4 linked regions of the Homo sapiens genome follow. The protein of the gene in region 1 purifies or fractionates together with the protein of each later gene. This does not show direct contact. Each region holds a gene or a part of one and is shown in the gene's direction. Other genes may lie near its edges.

Evidence for each region.
Region 2: the proteins of FEZ1 (region 1) and DGKD purify together in Homo sapiens (co-immunoprecipitation; 3 studies listed by BioGRID and IntAct, with this or other methods). This does not show direct contact.
Region 3: the proteins of FEZ1 (region 1) and ASPM purify together in Homo sapiens (co-immunoprecipitation; 3 studies listed by BioGRID and IntAct, with this or other methods). This does not show direct contact.
Region 4: the proteins of FEZ1 (region 1) and ATP12A purify together in Homo sapiens (affinity purification with mass spectrometry; 2 studies listed by BioGRID and IntAct, with this or other methods). This does not show direct contact.

Annotation. Positions count from the first base shown.
Region 1 is NC_000011.10:125,458,255-125,465,277, reverse strand, and holds part of FEZ1 (fasciculation and elongation protein zeta-1), read left to right. Parts: intron 1-1,707; coding exon 1,708-1,794; intron 1,795-4,611; coding exon 4,612-4,780; intron 4,781-7,023. UniProt on the Homo sapiens protein: May be involved in axonal outgrowth as component of the network of molecules that regulate cellular morphology and axon guidance machinery.
Region 2 is NC_000002.12:233,349,834-233,357,509, forward strand, and holds the start of DGKD (diacylglycerol kinase delta), read left to right. Parts: upstream 1-4,660; 5' UTR 4,661-4,685; coding exon 4,686-4,841; intron 4,842-5,296; exon of another isoform or gene 5,297-5,790; coding exon of another isoform or gene 5,791-5,826; intron 5,827-7,267; exon of another isoform or gene 7,268-7,454; coding exon of another isoform or gene 7,455-7,490; intron 7,491-7,676.
Region 3 is NC_000001.11:197,101,663-197,108,685, reverse strand, and holds part of ASPM (abnormal spindle-like microcephaly-associated protein), read left to right. Parts: intron 1-3,500; coding exon 3,501-7,023. UniProt on the Homo sapiens protein: Involved in mitotic spindle regulation and coordination of mitotic processes.
Region 4 is NC_000013.11:24,676,004-24,683,428, forward strand, and holds the start of ATP12A (potassium-transporting ATPase alpha chain 2), read left to right. Parts: upstream 1-4,404; 5' UTR 4,405-4,740; coding exon 4,741-4,749; intron 4,750-5,558; coding exon 5,559-5,717; intron 5,718-7,425. UniProt on the Homo sapiens protein: The catalytic subunit of a H(+)/K(+) ATPase and/or Na(+)/K(+) ATPase pump which transports K(+) ions in exchange for Na(+) and/or H(+) ions across the apical membrane of epithelial cells.

The DNA of each region.
Region 1 (7,023 bases):
AGCCACATTTCAGAAAAGGTAAACATGCCATTTTTATATAGACTTAGTGCCCACCACCCCCTACCCCCTGCCAAATCCTGGTTATAGACTAACAGTTGCTGTTAGATGCTTATGAAAAATAACCCTGTTTCCCAGGATGAGCCTAACTTGGGCTCACACTAACTTGGGCTGGGTTCATATTGATACATTTCTTCCTTTTTCTCCCCTAATTTTTGTCTGGAGGAAAAAATGTATCTTCGTTCTCTTAATTTTGGGCTAACTTCTACTGCAGGATTTTCTGGCCTGAAGAAAGTTCTTCCATATGAGTGTAGTTGTGAACAAAGCGTAGCTCCAGGAGTTTTGTTCTGCATAGTGGGGAGCGGTGGAAACCACGAGGCTATCGCAGGTGGTGGACTTGGCAGAGAGAGGAGCATATGGGTTTGACAGCGGAAATAGATGTCACCATCTGGTACCCGGGCCCTTCAGATGATTCCATTACCTCCCTGTCCTACCCCATATCTAGGTTGAGTGCGGATGGCATTTGAGATATATTTGCTTAATTTTTTTTTTCTTTTTTAATGACATAGTCCTGGTTTTAAGCAAATGGAGATAAAAGGTGATGTGCTCTGTTAGGGATGTCTGCCAAGGCAAAGCTCACAGAAGACGGGAGAAGTTTCTGAGGATAGACTACCTCTGACATTATTGCTTGGATTGGAGCTGGGCTGTTTCCTGTTAGAAAAGGCAGAATACAAGCCCCAGGGAAGGGGCCAATCGGTGTGCCAGCTACTGGAGCGCAAGGAGGATTCATTCCTGGATGAGAGGTGACTCAGCAGAGAGATTTCCTAGAGACACCTCCTGCCTCCTCCTTGTATGACGTTCAAATCAGACTTCTAGACATACAGCTTGTTAGGTGTTTAGTGATTAACTTTTCTGTGGGACTTGAATGTAAATGCCAGACTATGGCAGTTTGGGATATGGTCAGTTAAGCCAGATATGCTTTGAATAGCTTGTTAGATTTAAACATCTAGAATTTTGATGGCTGTGAACTTTGAGGATCTTACTTGGGATTATGGAATTATAGAGACACAGGGCAAATGAGATAAATGGGGTTCTCTTTTGTAGTTTTGTTGTTGTTTAGTTCATGTGGTCAGGTTATTCAGTGGCATGTCCCATGCAGATTTCTTACATCTGCCATCAGCTATGACATCATGCCTGGATTCCAGTAACAGGATGGCATTTCATCAAATTCTGAAAGTCATCATTATTTGGACTAGAACAACCTATTCCTTAAAATGCCTAGTAAGACGAAATCTGGAAACAACCCCCCAGGTTGGAACTCCTTAACAAAATCAGGGCACCTTTGCTGCAGTTGGCTGCAGTGTCACTTACCTGGAGAAGGCGCCTTGTTCACCCCAGGATGACCTGTCTGTGGGTTAAAAAACGGTGCTGTCCCCTTTGAGTCAGAATGGTGCTGGCCATTCCCCTGTCGTCTTTTCCTGCCAAGTTGGATTCAGTGCTGCATGCTGGATTTCTGGCATGCTGGAGTTAGTGATGGGGCAAAGATATGTTTGGAATTGGATGAAACTCTGGACACCTCTTCAGCTCCACTGTTTAGACAGCAGCTGGCTGGAGTGGCCTCCCAGTCAGTATCATCCATTCTCGAGACTAGAGGCAATCCCACTTCTGCTGATGGTCACCCAGAATTCCATCTCCCCACCTCCTCTCCAGATCCATGAGAAAGAAGAGGAAGAGTTCAATGAGAAGAGTGAAAATGATTCCGGTATCAACGAGGAGCCTCTGCTCACAGCAGATCAGGTATAAGTATCTCTCCAGGTTATCGGGACCTTTTGTTCTTTTGATGGAGAAAAAGTCCAAGAGAACACACTTGCCACATCCATTTAAGGCAGAAGAAAGATATGTGGTCATGTGGTGCCTGTGCTCATGACTCAGAGTATTTTTTGTTTCTTTTTTTTCTTTATATATATATACTTTTGAGACAGAGTCTTGCTCTGTTGCCCAGGCTGGAGTGCAGTGGCGTGATCTTGGCTCATTGCAACCTCTGCCTCCCGGATTCAAGTGACTTTCCTGCCTCAGCCTCCCGAGTAGCTGGGACTACAGGCATGCACCACCATGCCTGGCTAATTCTTATAAAAAATTTTTTGGTAGAGATGTGATTTCACCATGTTGGCCAGGCTGGTCTCAAACTCCTAACCTCAAGTGATCTGCCCACCTCAACCTCCCAAAGTGCTGGGATTATAGGCATGAGCCACTGTGCCTGACCTTTTTTTTTTTTCATTTTGAGACAGGGTCTCACTTTGTCACCCAGGCCAGAGTGCAGTGGCAAAATCAGGGTTCACTATAGCCTCAACCTCCTTGGCTCAAGCGATCCTCCCGCCTCAGGCCCCTAAGTAGCTGGGACTACAGGCATGCATCACTATGCCCAGCTAATTTTCTGTACTTTTAGTGGAGATGAGGTTTCACCATGCTGCCCAGGCTGGTCTCAAACTCCTGGACTCAAGCAGTCCACCCGCCTTGGCCTCCCAAAGTGCTGGGATTACAGGCATGAGCCACGGTGACTGTCCAACTCAGAGTATTTTTGATAAGGGATTTCATCTCTCTTTCTGCCTCAGGTTGCCCACCTGCAGTGAACATGAATGTCATTCTTGACACTTGGGATAGTTGGGGTCAGTCTCTGATAGGAGCCAGAGACAGGCATAGTGTTTAGTAGCTACAATCCTGCTAAGCCTTCTTATTGAAATTCGTTGTACTCGGAGTCAAGACACTCAAACAAGGGTCCCAAATACCTGTTTTCCCAAAAAGAGAAGTGACAGATGAGGCTTTTGTGTGATGGATATTTTCTTACATTTCATAGAACACTCAAAATTTTGGGCCTTCCGAAAGGAGTCTTAGAGCCACTTCGACTTTGTGAAAAAAGATAGAGTGCTTCGCATTCAATTGAGATCATCATAGCTTTAATAATTTATTACTTAGAGAGGATAATGTTCAGTTTCTGGATTCCTTATTTAATGTTTTAGTCAACAAATATTTATGGGTGCTTATTTTGAGCTAAACACTACATAAGTTTCCACAAAGTCTTTCTGCAAAGCTCCACTGGCAGCCTTCGGTGCCAGAAAGTGCTTTTTTAGCAGCAATGGTGCTTTTTCATATCTGTGATAGAAAGGTGGGAATTGAAACACGTGAGGATTAGGAGACTGAAGAGAACCAGATTTTTAAAAATAGGGGCTAATAGCTATTCTTGTGACTTGTAGGAGGATCTACAATTCAATGATATGAACTCAATTATAACTCCTCTTAGAGAAAAGGACATTCAGCCATAAGACCCTGACAGGGACTTGTGTCATTTGGTTGCATTCTGTAAAATGGCTTTCAGTAGTCAAAGACTGGGTATTTCCTAAGTTTGTGAGTAGAGGTGAAAAGGTTTGGGAATAAGAATGGAAATTATTCTAAAGGAGGAGACCCTGAAACCCCTTACCTTTGGTCCAGCCCACTGTGAAGAAACCACCTCAAAGAGTACAATGCTGGCCTCGGGGACTTTAGTCCATCCATGGAGAACAGACAAAGGTGAAGGTTGGGACAAAACTCATCTAAAGACCTGCTTTCAGCAGCAGTCTTCTTTATTTGTAAATAATTAATGTACAAAGTAAGTCACTCTTTTTTTTGTTGTTGTTGTTGAAACAGGATCTGGCTCTATTGCCCAGGCTGGAGTCCAGTGGCCCAGTCTCGGTTCACTGCAACCTCTACCTCTTGGGCTCAAGCCATCCTCCCACCTCAACCTCCCAAGTAACATGGACTACAGACACACGTCACCACAACTGGCTAATTTTTCTGCTTTTTGCAGAGATGGGGTTTCGCCATGTTGCTCAGGCTGGTCTTGAACTCCTGAGCTCAAGTGATCCACCTGCCTCGGCTTCCCAAAGTGCTGGGATTACAGGCATGAGACACCATGCCCAGCTAGTAATTCACTTTTGTTCCTTTTGGCAGATATCTAATTTTCCCTCCACTTCTGGGAGCTGGCTCCTGTCAATAGTCTAGATTAGAGCTGGGGTTCTTATCTATTTGCTGCTCTCTAGACTCCACCTATCCTTCTATTATTTCATTATCTCTATTTTCATTTGTTGCTGGGCAGCTTCAGTTCCTGTCTAGGTGAATTCTGGAGAAATAGTTGTTTTCCTCCCCATTTTGTGTTGTTCTAGGAGCACGCTATTTTTTACAGTCACGTGTATTATGTCAATTAATGGACTGGGTTTTGTGTTAAAGTTGGGTGAATGAAATATTTTCCCACTTAGAAATAGCTCAGCACATTGAAGTAAATGTTCCCTTCCAGGCAGCTCTGCCTTGCTTCCTGAAAGAGCAGCTTATTTCCAATAAGTCATTTATCTAAAAGGAGCTCTTGGAAGAGGTTTTACATTAAAGAGTGCCTTACATTAAAGAAAGAGTGTATGCAAGCCTTTGGTTGGAACTATTTTTATTATTCAGTATTTATGTAAAAACAATATTGCTTTAGAAATTTTCAGATAGCTAATTAGGAACATCCTTAACTGATCAAAATTCAAGCCAGAATGCCCCTCTAGCAGAGAACAGAGTTAGCACTCTCTCGTGTACCTTCTTCAGGTAATTGAGGAGATTGAGGAAATGATGCAGAACTCCCCAGACCCTGAGGAAGAAGAGGAGGTTCTGGAAGAAGAGGATGGAGGAGAAACTTCCTCCCAGGCAGACTCGGTCCTCCTGCAGGAGATGCAGGCATTGACACAGACCTTCAACAACAACTGGTCCTATGAAGGTGAGGGCCCTGGGCGCTGGGCTGGCCGAGGAGGAAGCACCTGCTCGGGGCCAGGCTCTGGGCTGTGTGCTTTGTACATGGCTAATAGAACCCTGACTGCCTCAGAGCAGAGCCTTGCAGATCTAGGTGGTCAGCAATACCTTTCTTACTCGGCATCAGGAGAGAAGTTTGCATTTTTGAGAAAAGAACAAGGTAGTCGAGCAAAATTTAAATGTTAAAACTAACCAAAGAACAAGACTAAGGCAGAATAAGCAGAAGAAATCTGAACTACTATATAAAAGCAATGAATGATGCTACCATAAAATCAATGAATAAAAAAGGTAATAGTAACAGCTCATATTTCTGAAGTGCTTTCTATGTGCCAGACCTTATTCTAAGACTTTCTTTCTTTTTTTTTTGAGACAGAGTCTCTCTCTGTCTGTCACCCAGGCTGGAGTGTAGCGGCATGGTCTTAGCTCACTGCAACCTCCACCTCCCAGGTTGAAGTGATTCTCAAGCCTCAGCCTCCTGAGTAGTTGGGACTACAGGCACGTGCCACCACGCCCTGCTAATTTGTGTATTTTTGTAGAGACGAGGTTTCGCCATGTTGGCAAGGCTGGTCTCAAACTCCTGGCCTCAAGTGATCTGCCTGCCTCAGCCTCCCAAAGTGCTGGGATTACAAGTGTGAGCCACTGCGCCTGGCCTTATTCTAAGACTTCCTATGCCTAATCTCATTTCATCTTCACACCAACCCCATTTGGATCAAGCTAACCGAGTCTTTCAGAGGTTACATGACTTGTCCAAGGCCACTGTTAGGGAAATATGATTAGAAATGAGATTTCCTTCCTGTTCAGAAAACCTCTCCACAAAGACAGGTGAGAAAGAAAACTATTTTGTTACTATTTTTATTTATTTATTTATTTTTTAGAGATAGAATCTCGCTCTGTCGCCCAGGCTAGAGTGCAGTGGCATGATCTTGGCTCACTGCAGCCTCTGCCTCCCAGCTTCACGCGATTCTCCTGCCTCAGCCCCCTGAGTAGCCGGGATTACAGGCATGCATCACCATGCCCAGCTACTTTTTGTGTTTTTAGTAGAGATGGGGTTTCTCCACGTTGGCCAGGCTGTTCTCAAACTCCTGACCTCAGGTTATCCGCCTGCCTCGGTCTCCCAAAGTGCTGGGATTACAGGTGTGAGCCACCATGCCCGGCCTAGAAAACTATTTTATTATTGAATAAGCACTAAACCAGGATGGGAGCCACATCACAGACAACTCTCTGAAGAGACTGCAAAGACAGAAAGCAGTCTCACTCTTGTGTAGCTAAGTGGATGAATGGAACCCATTACATTGAGTAGGTTTTGCAATTTGGAGTCGGAAGGGAGTTAGGCCCCTCTGCTCAGAACAATGAGAGATGATTATGTTTCTTTTTCTTTTCTTTCTTTCCTTCTTTTTTTTGAGACAGAGTCTTGCTCTGTTGCCCAGGCTGGAGTGCAGTGGCATGATCTCTGCTCACTGCAACCTCCGCCTCCCAGGTTCAAGCAGTTCTCCTGCCTCATCCTCCCGAGTAGCTGGGATTACAGGCATGCACCACTACGCCTGGCTAATTTTTATATTCTTAGTAGAGATGAGGTTTCACATGTTGGCCAAGGTGGTCTCGAACTCTTGACCTCGTGATCCGACTGCCTCGGCCTCCCAAAGTGCTGGGATTACAGGCATGACCCACTGCGCCCGGCCCGATGATTATATTTCAAAGCAGTAACCTCCAGGCCCTTGAAGAAAGCCTCCTGAATTATAAGAATGACAAGAGGCTTATTTTAGCCATGACAATAATTTAATGTAAATGTAACATATGTTTATTTTAAAGATTTAATCTAAATCTTTGAGAGATTGAAAAGGATAGGTAGAAGAAATTCTGAAAGAAAAGGGAGGTGGGGGAGAGGAAAAGTCTCTTCCCTTATTTTCAACGGGGAGAATCAAGCCTCTCATTTAAAATTTGTATTTGTGCTTAGTCCATGCAGAAGCCATAAGGGGTGAAGCTAACATTTGAAGCCAGGTAGGTTAACTCCAGAGGCCATCCTCTTAACTCTCTGACACAGGTTTATAGTAATTATGACTGTGCACAAGAAACGGCTGGATGAAGCATGAAATGAAAAAGTGTAACACAGCAAAGGCAGAACAATTCACCAGCCGTAGGGTATCAAATGCCCACGCTGCAGAAGGGGCCCCATCCTAGGAGTTGATCCACCCATGGGGAGATGGGAACTTA
Region 2 (7,676 bases), on another chromosome or scaffold:
TTTGGTGGAGTGGGGGGAGGGAGATTAGCATTTAGGATTCAACAACAACTGCCCTTGGCCCTTGCTATTTTTTTTTTCCATTGAAATTTTCAGGCTGGGCGAGGTGGCTCATGCCTGTAATCCCAGGACTTTGGGAGGCCGAGGCGGGCGGATCATGAGGTCAGGAGTTCAAGACCAGCCTGGCCAACATGGAGAAACCCCGTTTCTACTAAAAATACAAAAAATTAGCTGGGCATAGTGACAGGTGCCTGTAATCGCAGCTACTCAGGAGGCTGAGGCAGGAGAATCGCTGGAACCCAAGAGGTGGAGGTTGTAGTGAGCCCAGACTGTGCCATTGCATTCCAGCCTGGGCAACAGAGCGAGACTCCATCTCAAAAAGAAAAAAAAAAAGAAATTTTCATTGAGAGACTTGCACATTCACATGCAGTTGTAAGGGGTAATACGGAGAGACCCCAGGAACGCTTTACCCAACTTCCTCCAGTGGCAACATCATGTAAAGCTACAGTACAATATCCCAGCGGGGTATCGACGTGGGTCCAGTCTGCTCATCTGACTGAGATCTCCACAACTGGATTTGTACTAGTGTGTGTATTCAGTTCTCTGCAATTTTGTCACATGTGTGGTTAATTCCTTTTTAGGGTGTCTGTTTTCCTACTCCTTTAACATTTAAAAAACCTTTCTTCCTTCCAGTTTCATTTCACAGGACTGAGTCGCATTTACTGATCTTTGAGGAGTAGGGCAGGTGCGGGGTGGGAGTTGGGGACATTTGGAAATGTGTATGGTGGTTTTTGGTTTTCACATGCTTGGGGACCAGAAGCTCTATGTCACATGCAGTGGAGAAATGTGCTGCTCCAAATGACAATCATGACCCTAGTTCAGGGTAAAAATTGGATGATTCCCATGTTTTCAAGTTTCCCTTTTATATTCTCCAATGTGAAGTGGTTCTTTCTGACAGGAGTTGCGCCTCTTCACTGACGTGTCACAAAGAAGAATTAGGTTGGACGTGAAGTGTGTTATTACTGCCATCTTGATATGCCCTCAAGGTGGGGTAGACTCAGGGAGCAGGCTGTCGTTAGAGATGATTCATAGTGTGACTCATTCAATAAAGAGGCACCGGAGGGAATGTGCTCTTCCAGGCCACCGCTTTGGGGGAGTTGATGTCTCAGCCCTTCCTGAGATCTCCAGGGGAACAGCGCTGTGCGCTCACCAGGAGAACAAAAAAGCTGCTTCATCATCAAAGAACATTTATGCCAGTTTTCTTTGCTTTAAGAATATAATTCTTACCAAGCCTAATCCTCTTTTTTTAAAATACACTTTTTATTTTGAGTAGTTTTAGATCTACAGAAAAGTTGCAAAGATGTTATACTGAGGTCCCCCACACCCAAAACCCCCTATTATTAACCCTTACATGAGTAGGGTACATTTGCCACACTGAGTGACTCAAATGTTGTTTCCAGTAAAATATACTTATTTCTTTCCAACTTTTATTTTAGGTCCAGGGGGTACATGTGCAGGTTTTTTACATGGGTAAATTGCATGTCATGGCGGTTTGGTGTACAGATAGATACTTTTGTCACCCAAGTAATCAGCACAATAATCCCCGATAGGTAGTTCTTCAATCCTCACCCTCCTCCTACCCGGGAATCAATATTGATGCATTATTATTAAACTAAAGCCCCATACTTAATTCTGATGTCCTCAGCTTTTACCTAATGTCCTTTTTCTGTTCTGGGATCCCATCTAGGAACCCACGTGACGTTTAGTCATCATGTCTCCTTGGCTCCTCTTGTCTGTGACAATCTCAGTACTTTCTGGTAATTGCAGATTTCCTCCTCTCCAGCCACGGTTTCTGCTTCTTAACCGTCACGTTCATGCCCTTGCCTCCTTGACTCTAAAATGATGAGTTCTGGGGCCTGGATGTCCCCTGAGCTCCTAACAGGTGTAGGCAACAGCATTTATTATTATTATTATTATTATTATTATTTTTGAGACGGAGTCTCGCTCTGTTGCCCAGGCTGGAGTGCAGTGACACAATCTCGGCTCACTGCAACCTCTGTCTCCGGGGTTCAAGTGATTCTCCTGCCTCAGCCTCCCGAGTAGCTGGAACTACAAGCGCCCGCCACCACGCCAGGCTAATTTTTTGTATTTTTAGTAGAGACGTGGTTTCACCGTGTTAGCCAGGATGGTCTCGATCTCCTGACCTCGTGATCCGCCTGCCTCAGCCTCCCAAAGTGCTGGGATTACAGGCGTGAGCCACCGCGCCCGGCCGGCAACAGCATTTTAATGGCCTCCCTATTTCTAGTCTTCTCTCCTATGGATCATTCTCTGCCCAGACACATGAGTTCCTCTGCTTTCCCAAACCCCCTTGCCAGCTCCAGTGCCCACGGGACTGAAGTCCTTGCCTCAGAGCAGGGCCGGGAGGCTACTCTGCATCCTGGCGCCGCTGCTCACCTCCCTGCCTCCCGCACCCGCCTTGCTACCGGCTTCACCAAAATCCCTCGTCACCCGCTCTGCTCACCTGGTAGGGGTAGTCTCCCCGTTTTTGCGTTTTCCTGGGAAACTCCCTTCATATCTGACCTCTCCATTCCAATCCCAAACCCTGCTCAGGTCACCCGGCTCCCCCGCGGAATGAAGGAATGAACTGTTTCTTCCCCTGTGCGTCCCCGCCCCTCCTCCGCCTTGCACACTCCTCCAGGGTTTTGCCTCTGTGTATCACTCCACATGTAGTTAATTGATAGAAAAGTCCCAACCCTGTGGGGAGGCTGGAGCCCTTTGTGCCTGCATGAGTTCCCTAGGGCTGCCAGAGCACTGCACCATAGGCCGGGCGGCTTCCACCACAGGAATTGACGCTCTCGGTTCTGGTGGCTGGAAGTGCGAGATCACGGTGTCGGCAGGGGGAGTTCCATCGGAGGCCTTTCTCCTTGGCTTGTAGATGCCATCTTCTCCCTGTGTCTTCACATGGGCTGCCCTCTGTGTGTGTCTGTGTCCTCATCTCCTCTTTTTATGAGGACGCCAGTCATACCGGATTAGGGATCACCCCTGTGACCTCATTTTAACTTCATTACCTTTTTAAAAACCTTAACTCCAAATGCAGTCACATGCTGAGGTACTGGGGGTTAGGACTTCAACATATGAATTACGGGAGGACACAGTTCAGCATGCGACTGTGCTGCAGAACTTTCTGGGGGGACGGGGGAAGTGTTTTATATTTGTGCTATCCAGCGTGGCAGCTGCTAAGCCACATGCGGCTACTGAGTCCCTGAAATGTGGCTCCTGTGGCTGAGGAACGGAATGCTGAATTCTAACTAATTGAAATTTAAGTAGCCACATGTGGCTAGTGGCTATAGTACCCTGGGGCACCATGGGGCCTTCGGCCTGTCCCGGACTGTTCCTGCCTTAGGCCTTGTCCTCCTCTGTCCTGGCCGTGAGCCCATGCCCCTGGCCGTGTCCCCATGCCAGATGCCACTCTGCAGCCCCAGGTCACTGCCCAGGGCGGCGCGGCCAGCGAATGCCTATTGGCAGGCGAGGTCTCTAGCGGCAGCCCTTTGACAGGGAGAGGGCACACCTGGGCAGTCCCTTACTGATTTGCCCCTCAGAGCAGGGCAGACAGATGGACAGCATTTCCTCTGGGTGGCACCAAGCCCTGCTCCACCTGGATGGCACCAAAAACTTAGCTGATCTCATCTCCAGCTTCGCTTCCTCCTCTTCTGCCCAGAGCAGCGCTGGACCCCACCCGCCCACCATCCAGCAGCCCCCCTGGGAAACATGGGACTCGTTCTGGTCACCTCTGTCTCCCTCCAGTCGCTGGTCACTCCCCACCTGGATCTCAGTCCACGTCTCTATCTCTCAGCCCCTCGGTAATCCAGGGCGTCCACCTGCCCTGATAACTTCAAAGCCCGGATCACAGGCCCCAGCGTGGTGACCCAGCCCCGCCCAGGGTTAAATCCCTCAAGGGCTTCCTGCTGCCTTCCATCCCCTTATCTGGTTTCCAAAGCCCGCTTCGACCTGCCCGCCCCGAGGCTCATATCTTAATGCCATTTTCCTTGCTCTAAGCACCAGCTTCCCTTTCTTCCCCCGTCTTCGCCCAACACTCGTTCTTTCTTGCCTCCAGGCCTTTGCACAAATCTGGTCTCTGCCTAGAACATGGTTCCCTCTCTAGTCACAACTCCTGCTCACATTTTCCATCTCTCCTTAAGAACCGTTTTCTCCAGGAAGCCTTCCCAGATGGAGCGGTGCATCCCAGCTCTGGCGTCCCGAGGCCCGTCCCAGTACCGGGGTCTCTTTCCAGCACGCGCGCGCGCATTCGAGCTCGCCCCAAACTCGGCCACACAAGGCTGGGCAGGACAGACACAGCCCCAGCCTGCCTGAGGTTACCTACATTCTGATGCGGAAGAGTAGAGATGTTTTAAGAAGTGAATATAGAAACAAGAACACAAACGGCGTTCCAGAAATAACACACAGAAGCCACGGCCCGGAGAGGTGGGCGGGGGGCCCGGGACGCTTCAGGTGGGGGCGGGGAGGGGCCGCGCGGCGCCGTCTGCAGCTGCGCGCATGGCCGGCAGGGGGCGCGGCGGGGAGAGGCGGGAGGCCGCCCCCACCGCCCCCGGCCCGGCCCGCCCTCGGCCCCGCCCCTCCCGCCGGCCCCGCCCCGCCCCCGCCCGCGGTGCGCGCGCTGGCCCGGCAGCATGGCGGCGGCGGCGGGCGCCCCTCCGCCGGGTCCCCCGCAACCGCCTCCGCCGCCGCCGCCCGAGGAGTCGTCCGACAGCGAGCCCGAGGCGGAGCCCGGCTCCCCACAGAAGCTCATCCGCAAGGTGTCCACGTCGGGTCAGATCCGACAGAAGGTGAGCCCGCGGCGCGGCGGCCCGGGCGCGCGCCCCTCACGCCGCGGCAGCCCCGGCCGAGGCCCGTGGCCCTGCCCGAGCGGCCGCCCAGGCCCGGCTCGGCCCGGCCCGGGGTCCCGCGGGCGTCACCGCCCCTGTCGAGCGTGCCCCGCCGCTGTAACGGGCCGGCGCCCCGGGCGGAGCGCGCGGCCCCCGACGGACGGCGGGCGGCTGTGGGGCCGGGCGGGGGGCGCGCAGGTGGGCGCCCCGGGCGCCGCGCGCTGGGCGGGGGGCGCGCGCCGAGTTGGGCCGCGAGGACCCGGAGGAAACTGAGGCCTAGATGCAGGGGACTGCGCTCGTGCCACCGAGCGGGTCCCACGCGGGGGCTCCCGGCTGCGCCCCGCGGGCGTCCGCGGTCCCCAAACCCCGGTTCTGCACGTTTCTCAGGAGCGGTCGGGTGGTGTCCCGCGAGTGCCCTGCAGACTTCCCTGTGGTGCCCTCAGAAGTCCGCTCGGACCCGGGTGCGAGGGATCACCCCTTCACCCCTTCATCCCAAAAGGGAAGGAAGGGATGCGCGTTCAGTGACCGTCTCTCTCAGCAAAGCCGGGACCGCGCACCCGCTTGGCACCCAACTCTCCACGGAGAACTCCTGACGCTAAATGTTAGATAAAGACGCACGTCCTTTTTGCAGGAGGAAAGTTGCACCGTTTGTTTTCCCATTGTGCTTCCTATTGAAAACAGCTTACGGTTTTTGCTCCAGGTGAGCCCGCCCGGTTAGAACACTGCTTCCTCAGGCAGGTGGCTGGACAGGTGGCTGCGAGCAGGCTGGGTCCCTGGGGCAGCTCTGGCAGATCCGGTTGGCACGGACTTTCTCCTCCTGCTGCAGTGCGCTTTTCCTCCGGGGCGGATTAGGTTCAGCCGTTCCCTTCACCGTGGGAGCCTTCTCTTCTGTCAGCCTTTGATACCTGCGATGGGGGAACCTGAGGTCCTAACATGTTACAAACAGGTTTGTTGTGAAGTGCTCCAGTTATTCAGCAAATAGGTACCGAACACCTGCTTTGTTCCGGGTATAACAGTAGCAGTAGTGATGATAATGATAGCAATAGCAAATAACAATTCTTTAATAAGCCTTCTATGTGCCAGGCACTTTCTTGGGTTAGCTTTACAGCACTTGACATGGTTAGTTTATTAGTACTGGTGAGAACCCAATAAGTTGGATGCTATCATCTCCGTCTTTTGGAATTGGAATAGAAATAGAATCAAGGTTAAATGACTTGCCCAGGGTGTCACAGGTCGTAAATGTGGATGTGTGTTGGAACCATGGTCAGGACCGTAAGATGGAAGGCAGTTTCTACACCTAGGGATTCTCAGTCTAGTTGGGAGATGGACGCCTGTGCACCTGACATGACAACATTGTAAGTGCCGCGGAAACTCGGGGCAGAGACCTGCCCTGGGGAGGCAGGAGTGGTTTCCTTTAAGGTGAGATCTTGAGGGATAAAGAATTCACCAGGCTAAGTGGGTAAGAAATGGCCTTCTACATATTTGAACCTTGCGTCTAGAGCTTTAGGCACAACTGCGAAATGATCAGAAGTTGGGCCAGAGGTGGATCACGTTGATTAGACTTATTAGTTGGAAGGGTTGGTTAGGGCTGAATTTCGAAGGGGTGGTCCTTTGAGGGGTTTGCTTTTTGGCCTTGGGCAAGAGGTGGCCACAGAGGATTGTTCAAAGTATGGGGGTGATGGATCAGATGTGCTTTTGGGAAGATCTCCACATAGCCCTAAATGATACTGATAGGAGTTGCTTTCTCCTGTTGCCCAGGCAAGGTACTGACCAGTGTGGGGTAGATCATGTGATTTACAAGGTTGATTAAGATCAAGATTGTGTTGAGAGAGATTTGATTCCTGGGAGATTCCAGTGTTTAGAATTTTGTTGGTTAGGAGGTGTTTTTGCTTTCCTTCTTTTTTCTCCTAAAACAATAGCTGCTATACCAGCTGTTCTGGTTGAGGAGGAGTGATGGGTAGACTGTTAAAAATACACCCCGAGGACTTAGAGTTTCTGAATACAGTCACATCTGCTGTACAGATAGCTTAAGGCTGATTTTTCTTCTGAGTTGTTAAGAGATTGTCAGAATGTGGGAATGCGAGGTTGACTGTATGTAATAGCTCCATTTTTTTTTTTTCCAGCAGATAAGCCATTCACAAAATTCCTCTGGTATCTATGGTACATAATAGAAACATCAAAAATGGTATGGGGTAGCAGTCTGAGTCTAAAAAGAAAAACAGAACTCACCTTAAGTATTTGGAACAGAAGGAATGTAATCTAGGGGAGTGGTCACACAGGTGATGTGAGAACTGAGAATGCAGGCTGCAATGAGGCAAGCCGGAGATGAGGCAACAAGCAGGAAACTGCTGCCACCCCTAAGTTGGAGGGTGAAGGAAGGAGATGGCATTTCAGACTCCAGGGACAGCTGTCACCCACCAAAAACTGGGGTCACAAGGGGTCCATCTGGCAGTGGCTGGAGCCTTGCAAGGGCACAGCTGCTGCTGCGGATGTACTGTTCCCCTCCTGCCTGGGAACCCTGGCCTTGCTGGGGTCACCTCCTCCACAACTTGGACTGGAGCAGAAGGACAAAGAATGGATCTGAGGACAAGCTGGCCCAGGACCAGAACTGTATGTATGTCAGGCTTTTAAAATATTAGTCTAGTGCAAGTCAGAGCTGTCTTAATGAAGAGAAAAACAAAAGAGAATGTCTTAGGGCAGTGCTCCTCAAATTTTAATGTGCAGACACATCTCCTAGGGATCCTGTTAAAATGATGATTATGGTTGAGTAGGTCTAGGGTGGGTGGGGCCTTAGAA
Region 3 (7,023 bases), on another chromosome or scaffold:
TTCTGTTTTTTAAATTTGTATAGGACTATTTATCTTTGATGAGTTTTGGCAGTTTCTAATTTTCGAAGAATTGGTCCATTTCATCCAAGTTGTTGAATTTACCATATGTATATACAAAGTATATCTTTAATATCCTTTTGATGCCTGGGTAGTCTGTAGTGATATTCCCTTTTTCATTCCTGATATTGATAATTTGTATCTTCTCTTTTCTTCTTTGTCAGTCTTGCTAGAGTTTTAACTCTCTTGATCTTTTCAGTGGACAACCCTTTGGCTTCATTGGTCTCTGCTCAGTCTTTATTATTTCTTGTTTTGATTAATTTTGCTTTTCTGTCTATAGTTTCTTTAAGTATAATCTTGAGTAACTGATTTGAGTCCTTCCACTTTTAATGTAACACATTAATGGTATAAATTTTCTTCTAAATACAGGTTTAGCCACATACTACAAATTTTGATATGGTATTTTTTTTTCATTCAGTTCAAATAGTTTTTAATTTCTCTTGAGGCTTTTTCTATGATTTAAAGTTTCAGAATATGTTATTTACTTTCTAAATGTTTGGAGATTTTCCTATTATTTTTCTGTTAGTGACTTTTTCTTCAATTCCATTATGACCAGAGCACATACTGTGATTTCAATTCTTTCCTATTTGATAACCTTTAGTTTATGATCCACAATATGGTCTATCATGGTCAGAGGTTGGTATATCTGCAGGCCAAATTTGGCCTACCATGTGTTTTTATAAATAGAGTTTTTTAGAATATGGTCACAACTATTTGTTTATGTATTATTTGGGAGCTGCTTTTGTACTACAATAGCATAATTGACTTGTTGCAACAGAATTGGCCCACAAAGCTGAGATATTTGCCATCTTGGCTGTCATCTCCATTCTGCTATTGTGCCATACCAGTGAATTTTTATTTTGGTTAGTGTGTTTTTCGGTTCTACTATTCTCACTTGGTTCTTACTCATATCTTTGATGTCTTTACTGAGACTTTTTATCTTTCCATTAGTTTCAACTTGTTGTAGCATTTTTACTTTATCTGCTCTAAAGTCGTTGTCAGTTAATTCCAATTCCAGTATCTTTGTCATCTCATCATTGGTGTCTATTGATTATCTTTTCTTGTGAGAGTTGAAATTTTTCTGTTATGTTGTATGTCAAATAATTTTTAATTGCATTCTGGAAATTTAATGTTATGTTATCAGACTCTATGTTTTGTTTAAATCCTATGGAGAATGTTGATATTTTAGTTTTAGCAGCTAATTCACTTGATTGGGTTCAGGCCACCTGTTCTCATCAGCCTTCCATGAGCGTAGCTTCAGTGACAGTTCCTTTTTGAAAGCCTTTACAGTGAGTGATATTTGTATCATATCAGTTTCATTATGTAACACCCAGTAGCCAGTCTGGGATCTAGATTGTGATCTGTATCTTATTCAATTCTTAAAGTCTATAGCCTACTGTGGTCTAGATTCACATTGTGCACAACTTGGTGGTGAACCTAGAAATTCATAAACAACATTATCAGATTGCTTCCCTGAGCTCCCCAGTCTCTACCATCTCCCTGGTACCCTCTAGTTCCTCAGGGCTGCCTTGTTTCATCATCTGACCAGAAAACTGAAGATTGAGTTACACTGCTCTACTGCATTCTTTCCATGACTGCGCCCATATCTCAAGCAGAGAAACTCTTTTGTATGAGGAAAAACAAAGTATGGCACAGGTTATAGTTACTGGGAGAGATGAAGAATTGGGCTGTTAATGCACTCAACCTGCTGCAGATATCTGTGGTAGAGTAGAAAGAACATTTGATTTTGGTGTAATAATGTAGATCCTAAGATCAATTATTTTTATTTGCTGTGGGACTTTGCAAAAAGTTTTGTAACATTAGTGTTCCTTTCTTTAAGTGAAGAAACAATGCCAACTTAATGTATTTTTGTGAGAATTAAGTGAGAAAATTGTATGTAATGTGTTCCTTAGTAAAAGCTATTTATTTTTAAGAATTGTATGACAATGGTGAAAAAATTGCTATTGTAATAAGCAAAACTGTTAGGAGAGGAGATGATCATATCTTCCATGTTATATATCAACATTGATTAACATTTCAGTAATGGAGTAGTAATAGTAATGTAGAAAAAGTGATTATTAAAGTATAAAACAATCTGTACACACTGATTCTTCAATTTCTTAGTTTGAGGATTTTACATAGAAATATCTGTTGGGGGTGGGTGCTCAAAAGAAAAATAATATCTGAATTTCTGAGTACTATTACTGCTTTACTTTGCCCTAATTTAAAGCAAGTTAATACTTTATGTAGAGTTTATTGTTTTCAAAATACTTTTGTACAAATAAGTTTGACTGTTGTTGGATAAATATTTTGACAACTTGTGCATCTCTTCTTGGTAAGATAAAATGTATACAATCATTTCCTGTCAGGTTGAAGAGTATGAACAAAACCTCAGGTAACATTTAGTAGAGGAAGAAGACAATAAAACTTACAGGAAAAGGGTCAGGAAAAGGGATGTGCATGTTCTCCTTAAGCTTCCTCACCCATGGATAGGTATGCTTAGGCCAGTGATAGCTGCAAGCAAACTCGATACTGCTATAGGAGAGCGAGGTACCCAGTCCCTATATTACTCTACTTATATGCGAGAAAAAGTAAGATGTAGTAGAGAACAACCTCTCCATGCCACCCCCAATCTCAGCAATGTTTGGAGTGTTTGTACAAAGGAATGGTCTTATTGCTAAAACATCTAGAACTTGACTACCATTAGCCTGGGACCATTTTAGATACCAGCAACTGGAATTAGCTTGAGAGTTTGTAGCTCTTTTTGTTGAGCCAACATACAGTTGGATTAGCCATTGTAACCATGGCTTTTCAAAAGACAAAAGTTTTGTCATTTCTCAAGTCTTTCTAGAATTCTACTTTTAAGCCATGTATTTATAGTTCCTAAATTTGGGAAAAGGAAGTAATTTTATTCTTAATGAAAATAATGACTCTGAGAGTGATCTGGTTTATTTATTCCTAAATTCCTATATTTATATTATCAGGCCTGTAATGTGATAATGCAGGATCCTTCACATAAACAGTTTCTAGTCATTATAAGGTAGCTTAGAAACATTGAAGTAAGGGGACCATATAAGGCCCAGAAATAAACTCATAGGAAATTACTTAGAATCAATAGATAGCAAAGAATATTACTATAGTTTTATTTTGACTCTTTTGCTTGTAATATAACATAAACTTGCTTATGTTTCTTATGATTCTGGCATACAAATGCAGTATTTAAATATAATGAAGATTTGGATGGATTTCTGAATTGGCTACAGGTATATCAATGTAAAACCTAAACTAAAAACAAAAGAGACAAATATCTCACAAAAATAATTAGTTTTCTAATTCAATGTGTTTATTTTTAAGCAGAATGTTAGAAAAATTAGTATTTTGAAAAGTGTTAAATATAGAAAGCTATGCCTATTTTACTTTGTGTCCTTTCTTACCTTTTCCAGGGATATTGGAGAAGATATTCCACTAGACAAAGATTTCTGAAATTGAAATATTATTCAATCATCCTGCAATCTAGGATAAGAATGATAATTGCTGTTACATCTTATAAACGATATCTTTGGGCTACAGTTACAATTCAGAGGCATTGGCGTGCTTATTTAAGAAGAAAACAAGATCAACAAAGATATGAAATGCTAAAATCATCAACTCTTATAATCCAATCTATGTTCAGAAAATGGAAGCAACGTAAAATGCAATCACAAGTAAAAGCTACAGTAATATTGCAAAGAGCTTTTAGAGAATGGCATTTAAGAAAACAAGCTAAAGAAGAAAATTCTGCTATTATCATACAATCATGGTATAGAATGCATAAAGAATTACGGAAATATATTTATATTAGATCTTGTGTTGTTATCATTCAGAAAAGATTTCGGTGCTTTCAAGCCCAAAAGTTATATAAAAGAAGAAAAGAGTCCATACTAACCATCCAGAAGTACTACAAAGCATATCTGAAAGGAAAGATTGAGCGCACCAACTATTTGCAGAAACGAGCTGCAGCCATTCAATTACAAGCTGCTTTTAGGAGACTGAAAGCTCATAATTTATGTAGACAAATTAGAGCTGCTTGTGTTATTCAGTCATACTGGAGAATGAGACAAGACAGAGTTCGATTTTTAAACCTTAAGAAGACTATTATCAAATTTCAGGCACATGTAAGAAAACATCAACAACGACAGAAATATAAGAAGATGAAGAAAGCAGCTGTTATAATTCAGACTCATTTCCGAGCTTATATTTTTGCCATGAAAGTTCTAGCATCTTACCAGAAAACACGCTCTGCTGTCATTGTGCTGCAGTCTGCATATAGAGGGATGCAAGCCAGGAAAATGTATATTCACATCCTCACATCTGTTATAAAGATTCAATCATATTATCGTGCTTATGTTTCTAAAAAGGAATTTTTGAGCCTAAAAAATGCTACAATAAAATTGCAGTCAACTGTTAAGATGAAACAAACACGTAAACAATATTTGCATTTAAGAGCAGCTGCACTATTTATCCAGCAATGTTACCGTTCCAAAAAAATAGCTGCACAAAAGAGAGAAGAGTATATGCAGATGCGGGAATCTTGTATCAAACTGCAAGCATTTGTTAGAGGATACCTTGTCCGAAAGCAGATGAGGTTACAAAGAAAAGCTGTTATTTCACTACAGTCTTATTTCAGAATGAGAAAGGCTCGGCAGTATTATCTGAAAATGTATAAAGCAATTATTGTCATTCAGAATTACTATCATGCATACAAAGCACAGGTCAATCAGAGGAAGAACTTCTTGCAAGTCAAAAAAGCAGCTACTTGCTTGCAAGCAGCTTACAGAGGTTATAAAGTACGCCAGCTAATCAAACAACAATCTATAGCTGCTCTTAAAATTCAGTCTGCTTTTAGAGGCTATAATAAAAGGGTAAAATATCAATCTGTGCTTCAATCTATAATAAAGATTCAGAGATGGTACAGGGCGTACAAGACTCTTCATGATACAAGAACACATTTTTTGAAGACAAAGGCAGCTGTGATTTCCCTCCAGTCTGCTTATCGTGGCTGGAAGGTTCGGAAACAGATTAGAAGGGAACATCAAGCTGCCTTGAAGATTCAGTCTGCTTTTAGAATGGCCAAGGCCCAGAAACAGTTTAGATTGTTTAAAACAGCAGCATTAGTCATCCAGCAAAATTTCAGAGCATGGACTGCAGGAAGGAAGCAATGTATGGAGTATATTGAACTCCGTCATGCGGTACTGGTGCTTCAATCTATGTGGAAGGGAAAAACACTGAGAAGACAGCTTCAAAGGCAACATAAATGTGCTATCATCATACAGTCATACTATAGAATGCATGTGCAACAAAAGAAGTGGAAAATCATGAAAAAAGCTGCTCTTCTGATTCAAAAGTATTATAGGGCTTACAGTATTGGAAGAGAACAGAATCATTTATATTTGAAAACAAAAGCAGCTGTAGTAACTTTACAGTCAGCTTATCGTGGTATGAAAGTGAGAAAAAGAATAAAGGATTGCAACAAAGCAGCAGTCACTATACAGTCTAAATACAGAGCTTACAAAACCAAAAAGAAATATGCAACCTATAGAGCTTCAGCTATTATAATTCAGAGATGGTATCGAGGTATTAAAATTACAAACCATCAGCATAAGGAGTATCTTAATTTGAAGAAGACAGCAATTAAAATCCAATCTGTTTATAGAGGTATTAGAGTTAGAAGACATATTCAACACATGCACAGGGCAGCCACTTTTATTAAAGCCATGTTTAAAATGCATCAGTCAAGAATAAGTTACCATACAATGAGAAAAGCAGCTATTGTTATTCAAGTAAGATGTAGAGCATATTATCAAGGTAAAATGCAGCGTGAAAAGTACCTGACAATTTTGAAAGCTGTTAAAGTCCTTCAGGCAAGTTTTAGAGGAGTAAGAGTTAGACGGACTCTTAGAAAGATGCAGACTGCAGCAACACTCATTCAGTCAAACTACAGAAGATACAGACAGCAAACATACTTTAATAAGTTAAAGAAAATAACAAAAACAGTACAGCAAAGATACTGGGCAATGAAAGAAAGAAACATACAATTTCAAAGGTATAACAAACTGAGGCATTCTGTAATATACATTCAGGCTATTTTTAGGGGAAAGAAAGCTAGAAGACATTTAAAAATGATGCATATAGCCGCAACTCTCATTCAGAGGAGATTTAGAACTCTAATGATGAGAAGAAGATTCCTCTCTCTCAAGAAAACTGCTATTTTGATTCAGAGAAAATATCGGGCACATCTTTGTACAAAGCATCACTTACAGTTCCTTCAGGTACAAAATGCAGTTATTAAAATCCAGTCATCATACAGAAGATGGATGATAAGGAAAAGGATGCGAGAGATGCACAGGGCTGCTACTTTCATCCAGTCTACTTTCAGAATGCACAGATTACATATGAGATATCAGGCTTTGAAACAGGCCTCCGTTGTGATCCAACAGCAATACCAAGCAAATAGAGCTGCAAAACTGCAGAGGCAGCATTATCTCAGACAAAGACACTCTGCTGTGATCCTTCAGGCTGCATTCAGGGGTATGAAAACTAGAAGACATTTGAAGAGTATGCATTCCTCTGCAACCCTTATTCAGAGTAGGTTTAGATCATTACTGGTGAGGAGAAGATTCATTTCCCTCAAAAAAGCTACTATTTTTGTTCAGAGGAAATATCGAGCCACCATTTGTGCCAAACATAAATTGTACCAATTCTTGCACTTAAGAAAGGCAGCCATTACAATACAGTCATCTTACAGAAGACTGATGGTAAAGAAGAAGTTACAAGAAATGCAAAGGGCTGCAGTTCTCATTCAGGCTACTTTCAGGATGTACAGAACATATATTACATTTCAGACTTGGAAACATGCTTCAATTCTAATTCAGCAACATTATCGAACATATAGAGCTGCAAAATTACAAAGAGAAAATTATATCAGAC
Region 4 (7,425 bases), on another chromosome or scaffold:
TTCCCATCAGTCATGGTGTTTACAGCTCCAGGCAGGATCATCACTGGAGCTGACTTGCTAATTTCTGAAAAGCCAGTATTTCTTTTCTGGAGGATGTTCATATGCCAATCTCAGGATTTCCTGTGCATGAAGAAATGAGGACACAGTGTGGAAGCGTGCTTGCCTGAAGCTTTGTTTTGTTTTTTCATCCTGGCTCCAACCCCAGGCGGCCCTCCTCTCGTCGGGAGAGGAACACTGGCCGAGTCACAGCCAGTCGTGCTGACTGGATACAGGTGCGTAGGGAGGGCTCCAGGTGGGGACTGTCCCATGTGTAGGAGAGGAATCCAGGGACAGGGAGAGGCCGAGTGGGCAGCAGAGGGACAGGCCAGTCGGACGCAAAGCAGGAAGTGGAGCTTCCTCTTCCCATTGTCATCTGGATCCTCCCGCTCCGTGTGGGGATCCTCACAGTCACACCTCTTTGAGCCAGCTGGTGGCCAGCCTGCGCACAGGAGGGACCTCCTGGGGTCCCCAAGGGAAGCCACACACACAAGGCCCCAACTCAGCTGCTCTCCCAGACTCTCTCCCCACTTTCTTGGCGGGTGCAAAGGGATGGAAAAAAATCTGAATAACTAATCCTAAGTAGTACAAGTTATGCCATTTCCCCCAGAGAAACCTCTTTCCTCTAAACTCTGAAGGCACTTAGAGCCCATACCAGTTAGTGCTAAATTATTTTCCCTTTTGGCCCGTTTACTATTGGTTCTTCACTAATTTGGTCTCTCCAACTCAAGTCCAACTTCCTAGAGGGCAGAGGATGGCATGATTTTAGTACCATATCTCCCCACCACCCCTATATCTAGTACAGCTTAAATACATGAAGTATATAATTTAATTAAAACAGGCTGAAAATACATATATCATGACATCCTATCCCAAATATATAATGTTCGTCAATATGAGCAGGTATAATAGAGAACCTTGGCGTGGATAGGCTTGTTTTGAAAAGCAGCAAAACCTCAAGCAGAAGCTGCTACTAGCACATGTGGGCTGAGGAAGTCTCCCGGCTGCAGCCTGGCCTCTATGGCCAACCCTCTAGGAGCCATTTGCACTGGGTGGGATCAGGGTACATTGCTCAGAACATTGTGGGTGATGGCCCTGGGACCGAACGTGTCTCAGGAGAAATCCAATTCCTGATTCTACAGGTAAGTGCCTCCAGATGCCTGCATCACAGTTACCCAGGGCCTACCCACCTCAAGGCAGAGTCGGGTATCCAGATGACTAGAGGCAGCAAAGGACACGATTCTGGAGTTAGGGTTGGGGAATGGCCCCATTTTCCTTCTTTGGTAGAAGTCAACACTCCAGGACACCTGAATGGCACCAGAGGCTGCCACAAGGGCCATAGCAGTGACAGCTGAGACTAGTCCCTGGCAGAAGCCAAGAACTCTGCAGGATCAGAGAGGTGCCAGAGAACCTGACCATGGAAATGTTTTTGTCCTGCTTGTAGTAATAAACCGTCTTCCACCCTTGATACCAAAAGGAATAAGCAGCAATCTTGGGCTCAATGGCTCACACCTGTAATCCCAGTATTTCTGGGGCAGAGGTGAGCGGATCGCTTGAGCCCAGGAGTTGGAGGCCCGCCTGGGCAACATGGTGAAATCCCTTCTGTACCAAAAAAAACCACAAAAATTAGCTGTGCCTGTAGTCCCAGCTACTCAGGAGGCTGAGGTGGGAGAATGGCTTGAGCCCAGGAGGCGGAAGTTGCAGTGAGCTGTAATCACACTGCACTCCATCCTGGGCAACAGAGCAAGACCGTCTTAAGAAAAAAAAAAAAGCGGCAATCTTCTCCAAGGATCAAGGGAGGGTGCCATCAGTTAGTACTTTCTAAAGCTGTGTCACCATCTCTTTTTAGCCCACTTCCCCTCCCCGCTCCCCATCCCTCAGTCAAGTCCCTAGGATCTGAGTTTGCTTTTGGAGCTTGAACTGGCCTTGAGCTCAGAGACATCTCTCTGCGGACCCTGCTTCTCTATTCTACATCTGTCCCAATAGTTGGAGCAGGGGCTGGAACAGCTTAAGGTGAGCAGCAGCCACCTGTTCCCAAAAAACCCTTAGCTTGGATTATCAGCAGACAGTGGAACATCAGTTTCGTACACATTTTGTATTTCTCACCCCATCTGCAAACCTTTCCTTTGAAGAGTATTCCAAGAATGGAACCCAGAGCTCCCCAGAAGCACACTGTTGCTTGGGTTTGGACTAGAATTTAATGTTCCCTCCAACTCTAGAGAATCCATGATGTGTATCTTTACACCAGATGCCACTAGGAGTCTTCCTGTCCCTTATCATTTTAGTTAAGAAGTGACTCATTGCTGTCATCCTTGCTTCACAGAGGGAGGAACCCAGGCTTCAGATTCTGCCCTTTTGGAACGGAAGAAGGAGGGAGAGCGGGGAAAGACCTATGTGTGCAGCACTATGGAGACAGTTCACTATGTCGGGTACAACACATTCCCTTAGTCTCATTTGAAAGCCATGATGAACAGAGAGGTGTGGAAAATCTAAGATCACAAATATGCCATGAGAAAGTATCTTTGTCTCTACTGCTACTTTACAAAACCACGTCTCTAACTGCTAACACTTCAAATTCCCTCAAAATAAGCTTCTTTTCCCAATTGTCCCTCACCACCAACTATAGTCATGCTCTGAAATTATTATGGAAATTTAGCATCTGAAAGGAACAGGAAGTTATAATTAATTCCTAATTAGAATTGGGCACAAGCTTTTTTTTCTTATTTTTTTTTTAATTTTTTTATTGTGACAGAGTCTCGCTCTGTCGCCCAGGCTGGAGTGCAGTGGCGCGATCTCCACTCACTGAAAGCTCCACCGTCTCCCGGGTTCATGCCATTCTCCTGCCTCAGCCTCCCGAGCAGCTGGGACTACAGGCGCCCACCACCATGCCCGGCTAATTGTTTTGTATTTTTAGTAGAGATGGGGTTTCACCGTGTTAGCCAGGATGGTCTCGATCTCCTGACTTCGTGATCCGCCCGCCTCGGCCTCCCAAAGCGTTGGGATTACAGGCGTGAGCCACCGCGCCCGGCCGGGCACAAGCTTATTGTTTTTCTTCTACCTTTTCTAAATGTACCCAATGCTCTTCATGTTTTCTGCCAGATGTTCTAGTCACTGCATGATGGGATTGTTACTTTTGCTGCTTCTCTGGACTCCTCACTCTTAGTCATTTTAAATATGGTCAAAATGACAATCTTTCTTACCATATTTGATATATAACTTTCAAAAAGAATAAAACTTAGCACCCTCCTATTAGTCCTTATCTAAATGGAAACTTATTAGCAGAGCATCAAGGGCCCAATAAAGTGCCCCCTCTTTTGAAACTTATCTCTACTCCCTTTCATATATTTCAATCATGTCAATTTCTTATTGTTCTTCTAAATAGGTGCTGATTACTAAACTCTATTCGTGGGTTTTATTTTTTATGTTCCTCTCCATTAATTAATATTCTTCACTGACTTTAAGACTTCACGATTCATTCTTTTAAAAGAACGTGTTTGATTTCCTCCACTGTTAACTGCTAAATATCTCTCTGATATATTGTTTTCAGGCTATCTTTCTCATCTGGAGTAATTATGTTTCAAGTGTCAGGGGGAAAATACCTTTTCTATCCTGTGCAAAAACTCATGCTGGGCACTAAGAGCATGGAGCATGTCCCAGTTATCTATTGCTGCATAACAAACCAACCCAAACTTAGCAGTATAAAACAACCACTGCTTTAGTATGCACATCAACTTTCAGGGTCAGAAATTCTTTTCTCCTTCATGTATAGAGTCTCAGCTGGGAGTGACATAAATAGGTGGAGACAGACCTCTCCAGCCCAGTCCAGCCAACAGCCTCCGCTCCTGCGCACCCGCAGCCTGGGGCCCCAGGTTCCTGTGGTCTCACCGACCCTAATCCTCTCATCTCTCCTCCCCATTCCCTCTCCAAATTGTTTCAGAATTCCAAATTCTTATCTGGATCCGGCAAATTAATTCAGCTACTCTTCAGAGTCTCTCAGTTATTCCCAAATTCTCTCGGAAGCTTGAATTTACCTATCTAAATCCATTCTCAAAAACACATTGGCCTTTTCTAGCCGGGACATCTCCAACAGTAGTTGCTGTTAGAAACTGCAATTTCCCCTTCTCTGCATACACATTTTTATAAATTGATTTATTGGTAGGCAAATTACATTTTTAAAAAAAGGCATGTGTGGGTTTTCAGGGAAGCCTGGACAGGACGTGGGCGTGCCGGGAGCTCGCCGGAGCAGCTGGTCCGGCTCTGGGCGCCCAGCGGAACCAGGGCTGTACTCACCTGGATGCCGGACCCGCCCCCTAGAGACCCCGCCCCCTGGCGTTCGGCTACTAAAGGGAAGGGGATTCCCAGGGGGTCCTCAATCCTGGACTCTCCCGACCCCTAGCTGTCGGTCCCCCTCCCTGCGCGCGCGCCGGCGGGTTTCCTACCCTCCGAGGCGTCCGCTGGCCTGCGCCCTGGCGGGGACGTGGGCGGGGCGGGCGGCATTTAAGGCTGGTGCCACCTCCCCGGTGCAGCGGCTGGCGATCGGCCGCGGAGGTGCGTGCAGGGCCCGCGCCGCCGCCGGTATCTCCACCGCCAACACCTCAGCCACTGCCACTGCCACAGCCACACGAGGCCCCCCACCGTGCGCTCCGCCGCTGCGGTCCCGGATCCGCGCTCCACGCCCGCAGCCCGCGGCGCCACCAGCCCAGCATGCACCAGGTGCGTGCAGCCCCCGCGCCGGCCGAGGATGCGAGACGCTGGGCCAAGGCCCCGGGGACCGGAGCAGGCTGACGGGAAGCGAGGAAAAGGCGAAGAGGAGAAACGCCCCGTCCCGGGGCAAGGGGAGGCCGCCTTTCCTCTGAGCGCCCCCCGGCCTGGGCACCGCTTCTCTGACTCCCCGCCACGGCTCCGTGCGGCCGCCGGGGCTGGCTGGGGAAAGAAGCCAGTCCAGAGGAGCGAGAAGGGGCCAAGGGGTCCTAGGCCAGCTCCATGGCACCTGCGGGCTCCGACTCGGAGGATGGGGTGACATGGATTCGTTGCGGTCTGAAAAGACTTCCGGTTAGGGCCCCCTGATCAGGACTGAGGGTCGTAAGCTTAGTGGGTGCCTCCTCCCCAAGAAACAGGACGCACAGCTGTTGTGTCCCCTGGGAAGGACACCTCAGAGGAAACCTCGAGGTGCCTAAGGAACCTCGAGGTTCTAAGGAAACCTCACAGCTCCTTGGAGGCATCAGTCAGGAGTTGGGGGGGTAACTTCCCACCTGCTCCACCCAGAGAAGGGTCACCCTGAGGAGCTGCTGGCTGGCCTGTGCCCACCCCGCCTCCCCTCTACACGGACGGAGAGGAAGCCAAGGTCGGCGGGAGGTGGGGGAGAGACTCCACTGTCCGACTCCCTCCGGCCTCCCCAGAGGAGGGAAGGAAAGGGAGAAGGGGCTCCTGACTCCTGCAGGTCCTGACCCCGCAGAGGGGCGCTCAGCACCTCTTCGGAAACCCCATTTGGGGCCAATATTGCACCTGGGCTTCTCTTTCAGAAAACCCCAGAAATTTACTCCGTGGAGCTCAGCGGAACTAAGGACATCGTGAAAACAGACAAGGGGGATGGCAAGGAGAAGTATAGGGGTCTGAAGAACAACTGCCTGGAACTCAAAAAGAAAAATCACAAAGAGGAGTTTCAGAAAGAACTCCATCTGGTCAGTAGCCTTAAGCCACGGGGTCCTGCCGGCTATGGCCCTTCCCCGCAAGAGCTTGCCCCTAGAACCCACCTCTTACCACAGACATTCAGTCTGAGGGATTTGAAATCCCCTTGAGATTGTGTGTGGTGTGTGGTGTCTGCGTGGTGTGTCTGTGTGGTGTGTGTGTGTGGTGTATGTGTGGTGTGTGTGTATGTGTGGTGTGTCTGTGTAGTGTGTGGTGTGTGTGTGTATGTGTGGTGTGTGGTGTATGGTGTGTGGTGTGTGTGTATGGTGTGTGGTGTGTGTATATGGTGTGTGTAGTGTGTGGTGTGTGTATGTGTGTGGTGTGTGTGTATGGTGTGTGTGTATGGTGTGTGTATGTGTGGTGTGTGTGATGTGTGTGTGATGTGTGTGTGGTGTGTGTGTGTGGTGTGTATATGTGTGTGGTGTGTGTGTGGTGTGTGTATGTGTGTGGTGTGTGTATGTGTGTGGTATATATGTGTGTGGTGTGTGTGGTGTGTGTATGTGCATGGTATGTGTGGTGTGTGTGTAGCGTGTGGTGTGTGTGTAGTGTGTGGTGTGTATGTGTGGTGTGTGTATGTGCATGGTATGTGTGGTGTGTGTGTAGCGTGTGGTGTGTGTGTAGTGTGTGGTGTATATGTGTGGTGTGTGGTGTGTGTGTGGTGTGTGGTGTGTGTATGTGTGTGTGTGTGTTTTGAATGGTGTGATAGTATCCACCCAGAGGTCAGGGCCTCTGCAGGATTCCTGCATTCTGGTTGGAGGCAGTCCCTGTAGAACTCAGAAGGAAGAGCCTCTGATTCCAGGCCCCACAGGCATGGCCAGACCTCTCTCCCCGCAGCTGCTTCAGTGAGAGTTAAGTAACCACTTGCCAGTTTTCAATTGATTAGTAAAACTATTTGAGCTGGAACTTCTGAGGAGGAAAACCAAAGCCCCTAGGCCATGCTAGATTGCAGGTGTGAAACCTCATGGAAAAGCAGTTTCAGTGGTAAAAATGTGGAGCTTGGATTGGGAGGACCTCGGGCCCCATCAGAGTCCCACTTCTCCACTGAGCTGAAACTGGCAACAAATGACTGACCCTCACTGAAGGTCCATTTCCTTTATGTAAAATGGGAAATAAATAATTTGCTGGGGTCTATGAGGGGAAAAAATGAGATGAGGATTTTGTAATTCACGTGCTTTAGGGGAGTACAATATTATTATTATTAAGGAAGAGCTCTGGAGTTATTAAAACTAGCCTTTTTTTTTTTTTTGAGACAGAGTTTCGCTCTTGTTGCCCAGGCTGGAGTGCAATGGCGCTATCTAGGCTCACTGCAACCTCCACCTCCTGGGTTCAAGCGATTCTCTTGCCTCGGCCTCCCGAGTCACTGGGATTACAGGCGCCCGCCATCACACCCAGCTAATTTTTGTTGTTTTTAGTAGAGACGGGGTTTCCCCATGTTGGCCAGGCTGCTCTCGAACTCCTGACCTCAGATGATCCACCCGCCTCAGCTTCCCAAAGTGCTGGGATTACAGGCGTGAGCCACTGTGTCCAGCCCAAACTGGCCACTTTAATAATAAAACTGCCTTGGGTCTGAAATGTGACAGATTTTATCTTGGGAACACCGAAGGGGAAACTTCTACACGGAGCTTGAGATGGGCTGGATTGTCCCCACCGTCCTTGGCAGATCTTAAAGCTCTGTGACTCCTGAGGGGAGTCTCTTTTGTG